Homo sapiens: one gene and its partner. The gene in region 1 interacts genetically with each later gene. Each region holds a gene or a part of one and is shown on either strand. Other genes may lie near its edges.

The links. Genes that interact genetically often act in the same process or in processes that back each other up.
Region 2: changes in MED24 (region 1) and GATB together harm fitness more than expected from each alone (negative genetic interaction), as found in Homo sapiens cells (one large-scale study listed by BioGRID).

The regions. Positions count from the first base shown.
Region 1 is NC_000017.11:40,047,909-40,051,408, reverse strand, and holds part of MED24 (mediator of RNA polymerase II transcription subunit 24), read left to right. Parts: intron 1-3,500. UniProt on the Homo sapiens protein: Component of the Mediator complex, a coactivator involved in the regulated transcription of nearly all RNA polymerase II-dependent genes.
Region 2 is NC_000004.12:151,754,508-151,758,007, reverse strand, and holds part of GATB (glutamyl-tRNA(Gln) amidotransferase subunit B, mitochondrial isoform 1 precursor), read left to right. Parts: intron 1-3,500. UniProt on the Homo sapiens protein: Allows the formation of correctly charged Gln-tRNA(Gln) through the transamidation of misacylated Glu-tRNA(Gln) in the mitochondria. The reaction takes place in the presence of glutamine and ATP through an activated gamma-phospho-Glu-tRNA(Gln).

The DNA of each region.
Region 1 (3,500 bases):
CTCTTGACCTCGTGATCCTTCCGCCTCGGCCTCCCAAAGTGCTGGGTTTACAGGCGTGAGCCACTGTGCCCGGCCGCCCAGCCTTATTTTTATTTTTTGAGAAGGAGTCTTACTCTGTCACCCAGGGTGGAGTACAGTGGCACAATCTTGGCTCACTGCAACCTCTGCCTTTCGGGTTCAAGCAATTGTCCTGCCTCAGCCTCCCAAGTAGCTGGGATTACAGGCGCCCACCACCAATCCTGGCAAAATTTTTTTTTTTTTTTTTTTTTTTTGAGACAGAGTCTAGCTCTTGTTGCCCAGGCTGGAGTGCAATGGCGCGATCTTGGCTCACCGCAACCTCTGCCTCCCAGGTTCAAGCGATTCTCCTGCCTTAGCCTCCCAAGTAGCTGGGAGTACAGGCAAATGCCATTACACCCGGCTAATTTTGTATTTTTAGTAGAGACTGGGTTTCTCCACGTTAGTCATGCTGGTCTCAAACTCCCGACCTCAGGTAATTCGCCTGCCTTGGCCTCCCAAAGTGCTGGGATTATAGGCGTGAGCCACCACGCCCAGCCAGAAGTGCAGATTTCTTATGTGCATACATTGCATCGTGGTGAAATCTGGGCTTTTAGTATACCCATTACCCTAGTAGTGAACACTGTACCCAATACGTAATTTTTCAACCCTCACCCCACTCCCACCTTCCCACCTTTTATATTCTCCAGTGTCTGTTAGTTCACTCTATATGTGCACACGTTGTGTAGCTCCCACTTATCAGTGAGAATATGTGGTATTTGACTTTTTTTTTATTTACTGAGACGGAGTATTGCTCTGTCGCCCAGGCTGGAGTGCAATGGCTGATCTCAGCTCACTGCAACCTCCTTGACTTTCTATTCCTCAGTTATTTCACTGAGGATAATGGCTTACATGTATGAGCACTTGAAGTACAATTTCTACTGAATGTGTATCTCATATTTTTTTTTGAGACAAGGTCTTACTCTGTCACCCAGGGTGGAGTGCAGTGGCGTGATCTCTGCTTACTGTGACCTCCACCTCCTGGGCTCAAGTGATTCTTCTGCCTGTCTCCCGAGTAGCTGGGACCACAAGCATGCACCACCACACCCAGCTAATTTTTGTAGTTTTAGTAGAGACGGGGTTTTACTGTGTTGGCCAGGCTGGTCTCGAACTCCTGACCTCAGGTGATCCGCTCACCTCGGCCTCCAATGAGCCACCGTGCCTGACCTGAATGCGTATCTCTCTTTTTTTTTTTTTTTTTTTGAGACGGAGTTTCACTCTTGTCCCCCAGGCTGGAGTGCAGTGGTGCGATCTCGGCTCACTGCAACCTCCATCTCCTTGGGCTCAAGCAATTCTTCTGCCTCAGCCTCCCGAGTAGCTGGGATTACAGGCGTGCACCACCATGCCCCGCTAATTTTTGTATTTTTAGTAGAGACAGGGTTTCACCATGTTGGCCAGGCTGGTCTCTAACTCCTGACCTCAAGTGATCCATCTGCCTCGGCCTCCCAAAGTGCTGGGATTACAGGCTTGAGCCACCACGCCCAGCCTGAATGTGTATCTCTTTTACACCATCATAAAGTCGAAAAATTAAGGTGGGGTGTGGTGGCTCACGCCTTAATCCCAGCACTTTGCAAGGCCGAGGTGGGCGGATCACGAGGTCAGGCGATCGAGACCCTCCTGGACAACATGGTGAAACCCCGTCTCTACTAAAAATACAAAAATTAGCTGGGCATGGTGGCGAGTGCCTGTAATCCCAGCTACTTGGGAGGCTGAGGCAGGAGAATCGCTTGAACCAGGGAGTCAGAGGTTGCAGTAAGCCAAGATTGTGCCACTGCACTCCAGTCTGGTGACAGAGCGAGACTCCATCTCAAAAAGTAAAATAAATAAAATTAAAAAATAAAGTCAAAAAATTGTAAGGTGAACCATTGTTAAGTTGGGACTGTCCTTGCTATGGGAATACATGGGAAAGGCACCCAGTCCAGTGTGAACAATCAAGGAAGGCTTTGTGGAGGAAGTGATGTTTAAACCAAGACCTGAATGTTGAGTATGAGTTAGCCGGCACATTGAGGAGAGTGTGTGTGCAAAGCAGAGAAAAGCATATGTACACGGTGGGAGGCAAAAATCACATAATGTTGTTCAGGAACTGAAAATAATTTGGTATGGCTAGAGAAAAGGAGTTTGCTCTCAGGACCCCTTTTTCTTTTCTTTTTTCTCCTTTTTCTTTTTTTGTATTTTTTGTGGAAACGGGGTCTCACTATGTTGCCCAGTCTGGTCTTGAACTCCTGGCCTCAAGTAATCCTTCTTCCTTGTCCTCCTAAAGGCTGGGATTATGAGTATGAGCCACTGTGCTCAGTCCCTGGACCCCTTTACAGTCTTCAAAATTTTGAGACTTTTCTTAAATATATTTGATTGTATTTGATCTCATGCCTCCCTAAAATGTATAAAACCAAGCTGCACCCGACCACCTTGGGTACATGTTTTCAGGACCTCCTGAAGGGCCATGGTTACTCATATTTGACTCAGAATAAATTTCTTCAAATATTAAAACATATATATTATTGGCCAGGCATGGTGGCTCCTGCCTGTAATCCCAGCACTTTGGGAGGCTGAGGTGGGTGGATCATCTGAGGTCAGGAATTCAAGACCAGCTTGGTCAACATGGTGAAATTCTGTCTCTACTAAAAATACAAAAAATTAGCCGGGTGTGGTGGTGCGCACCTGTAATCCCAGCTACTCAGGAGGCTGAGGCAGGAGAATCGCTTGAACCCGGGAAGTGGAGCCTGCAGTGAGCCAACATCATGCCACTGAACTCCACCCTGGGTGACAGAGCAAGACTCTGTCTCAATAAAAAATAAAATGAAATAAAATTAACTGGTCTCTTTGTTGCACCTTGAATAGATCTTTTATCTATGCATGATTTTTGTCACATCATGAATTGGTAATTTGGACAATATCCATGACTAAGTTATATAGATATTACAGTTGTTGATGCATTTAATAATATCATATTCTCACATGTTATGGAGCTTCCAGGACAATCCACTGTACAATTGTGAGAGAAAAAGAGCAAAAAGGTAAACAGTATCTTAGTAGTATTTTAAAAATAATTTTGACTTCCTAGACCCCCTGAAAGGTCTTGGGGACCCTGGGGAGTTCCTGAACCGTACCTTTAGAACTGCTAGGCTGGCACTTTAAGGAGGAGAGTGGTTTAGGGAGAGAGAATGATAAGATTGTAACAGACTTTTGAGTGATGCTAAGGAATTTGGACTTTATTTTAGGGTGACAAATAATCATTTAAAGGGTTTTAAGTGGAGGCGTCACATGACAAGACTTCCGTAAAAATATACATATTTTAATTAACATAGCATAACATACAAAGATCTTGCGCTGGGCGCAGTGGCTCAATCCTGTAATCCCAGCACTTTGGGAGGCCGAGGCGAGTGTATCACCTGAGGTCAGAAGTTCAAGACCAGCCTGACCAACATGGTGAAACCCCGTCTCTACTA
Region 2 (3,500 bases), on another chromosome or scaffold:
TATATAATTGGTTGAATTTTTAAGAAAAGTATGAAGGGAACAAGTAAATGTTTTAGCTAATAAATAGCATATGGTCTGTCCAGGACCTATAATATCAACTGTGTTTGGGGTTTCCTGCCATCTTTGGAGGAAATGTGTATCCATGGTGGTGACAAAGGTGGGGAGAGGCAGACATTGTCATGGGTAAATTCCATGCTCTCAAACATTTAAATAAGAGTGGAAGCTGGTTGAGGCCGGGCGCGGTGGCTCACGCCTGTAATCCCAGCACTTTGGAAGGCCAAGGTGGGCGAATCACAAGGTCAGGAGATCGAGACCATCCTGGCTAACACGGTGAAACCCCATCTCTACTAATAGTAAACTGCAAAAAATTAGCCGGGCATGGTGGTGGGCTCCTGTAGTCCCAGTTACTGGGGAGGCTGAGGCAGGAGAATGGCGTGAACCTGGGAGGCAGAGCTTGCAGTGAGCTGAGATCGCGCCACTGCACTCCAGCCTGGGCGACAGAGCGAGACTCCATCTCAAAAAAAAAAAAAAAAAAAAAAATCTGGAAGCTGGTTGAACTGAGCACTGGCAGGCTTGCAGAGGTATACTTTTCTCAGTCACTGACCAAAGTGGAAGATTCTGGGCAGTGCCTCCAGTATGCCTGCCTCACTCAGCTTTGGTTGTATTGGGGCAGCATCTTTGTCTTGGAACTTTTCTCTTATCGCATTTTCTGTCATGGAGGACTCCCTTCCCTGCAGACCATATCAAGGATCACCTTTGATTTGCTGCTGGGTCCCTCTGGGAGAAGATAGATGTGGAGGTGTGCCCTCTTTCTCTCTCTCTGACTTAGAGATCTATCTATGGAAAGATTTTTTGTTTATTTGAGAAGAGTGAATATTTTGGTTATAAATATATGACATCTTTTTTGGGCAGAGATTCAGATATAGTAGAGATACAATAATATTTATTGTAAAATGGAAGGCAAGTTGTCATAACACCTCTACATTTTCCCTTCCAGATTCAAAACATTTTTTTCCCATGTTGTAGTTAATTATCAAGAGATTAGGCATAAGCTCTGAGTTCATCCTAGGTTTTTCCAGCTGTGAATGTGATGGCTATCAGGCCATACTTATTACAGTTCACTTTAGAAACAGGTCCATTTGCAGATAAGCATGTTTTCTGTATATAGACTCTCCAGCTGTACCTAAATTTGGTCAAAAATTAGACCAAATTAGAAAAATTCAAAATAATTAAAATGCCAACATTTTAATTGCTTTGTAAAACTTGTCATGCACCAAAAAAGAAGGTGCTTGTTCACTGATAAGCATATCAATAACACAGTGAAGGTGTTTGGGACATTTGAGTGTTGAGAGCTTGGCTTACATTAATTAAATGGCAGACAAAGTCTGGAAATACAGTTTTGTATGAGCTAGGATTTGTTTTCCTCTTCAGAGCCTACAACGCTTATGGTTTAAGTAGCCTAGATGGGTTATTCTGTAGACAGAGGAGATCTACCTCTTCTTCAGAAATGTTTCTGCCTTTAAGGGACCTCATTTTGTACGTGAGCAACATTATACCCAAACTCCCAGAATTAAGCATTGCCATTCAAAACATTTCAAAATCTTTTGATTTACCTCTAAATAGATTTAAAATACACTAAAACCTTTAGACAGTTGTCCTTCCCCTAAGCCCTATGGAGATGTATAAACATGCTCTGATAGCCAGACTCTGCTTATAACTCCATTCATAAGAAACCAATAATTTGAGAATATGTTTGTGCTTCCGAGGATTTTAGTAGAACATTATGTTATTGTTTTGGTCAAGTAAACCAAAGTGTAAGTGTGATTCATGATGATACTTGAAACTCTTTCTGCGCAGGGCTTATATTGCTCCCTTCTCTCCTGCTTCTTCCCCGCCCTCTACCTGGCTGATTGTGCCTTCTCACATGGCTGTGTTCTGCCACTCAGCCCTGAAATGTTGGTTTCCCATGCCCTATTCTTTGGCTCTCAATTCTTCTGTTACCTGTGTTCCCCTGAGTAATCTTTTTACCCTCAAATAAAGCTCCCCTCTCTCTTTTAGGCAAGAAACCTATATCTATTGTGTCCTACTATATATTTCCATCTGAATGATTCATAAACATCTTAAATTCAGCAGTTACAGTGTTAAGCCTGTTATCTTTTCTCCCCAAAGTTTCACTGCCTCCTGACGAAAGAATAAACCAACAAGGGAAAATATATGTAAGAAGAAGCAAAAATCAGTGGGAAAAGGATAAGTTATTTAACTGATGGTTTTGGAATTGGTTAGCTATTTGGAGAAAAAGTATCGCTCATTTCACACATCAAAACAAAGTTCATATATATATAATATAAGTTAAATGTCAAATTAAATCCAGAAATATCTAGGAGAATATTTGTTTGTCCTTGGGTTGGGGAGAAACTTTGTAGGCATAAAAGCAAGAAAAAACAGCTAATTAGGCAAAATGGCAATTTGACTACTTTATTCGCCCAACATGTTTATTGACGTAGTAATTCTTTTAGGAATCTGTCCTTGGAAAATAAACATGTGGGCAAAGACTTATATGCAGAGATGTCTATAGCAGATCTATTTTTAAAGGTAGAAAATTGGAAGTAACCACAGTTTCTCAGTGATGGGGGAATCATTGAGTAAATTATAATACATCAGTACAGTACAACATTATGAAGCCACTGATAATGTTTATAATAGACTTTTAGTGACATAGGACAATGCTAAAGATAAAAATTCTAGTGAGATGAATAGAATTTTCATGTAGATTACTTAATCTTCTTTGCATCAGTTTCTTATAAAATGGAGATAATTGACTCATTGGATTTGTGTGAGAATTAAATGAATCAGTACCTTTAAAACACTTAAAACAGTAATTGCATGTAGTAAGTGCTCTTATTAATTAACAGATAATTAACAAGTAATAACAGGTAATTAATTAAAAAGCTCTTAATAATAGGTAAGGTAAATCTTACCTGCTAGCATACCCATAATGATTGGTGGCTTTTATCTTTACAAAGGCTCTCCTGAGTTATTGTGCACAGTTACGTTGCCAGTGAGAGCAAAAGTAAATGCTACACATAACAATTGGTCACTTAACCTTGATTTCACCAGTTAAGTGATCTGCCAACAAAAACTAACCTGGGTATCTCATCACCTCAGAGATGTATAGAGAATTAAGTAAATAATGAAAACCAGTAAAAACTAGTATATGGATAAAATTATTTCTGAATTAGAAATCATTACTTTTATTGCGAAAAAGAAGGCTTATGAGCTTTTTTTTTTCCATCTGTAGTTATTTGGAGTGTTTCTTTGGTTCAACATGGTATTGGCTCTTGATTTAGTAAAAAATTAGGATTGTCACTTAAAACAATTGTTATAATGTATAGTCTTTCTGTAGACATTTCATTCTTCTTCTCTGTCGGTTGTGTCTTCATTCACTCAGCTGGCATATATTGGATGCCCACGTTATGCTAGCCCTTGTGTAGCTCTAGTGA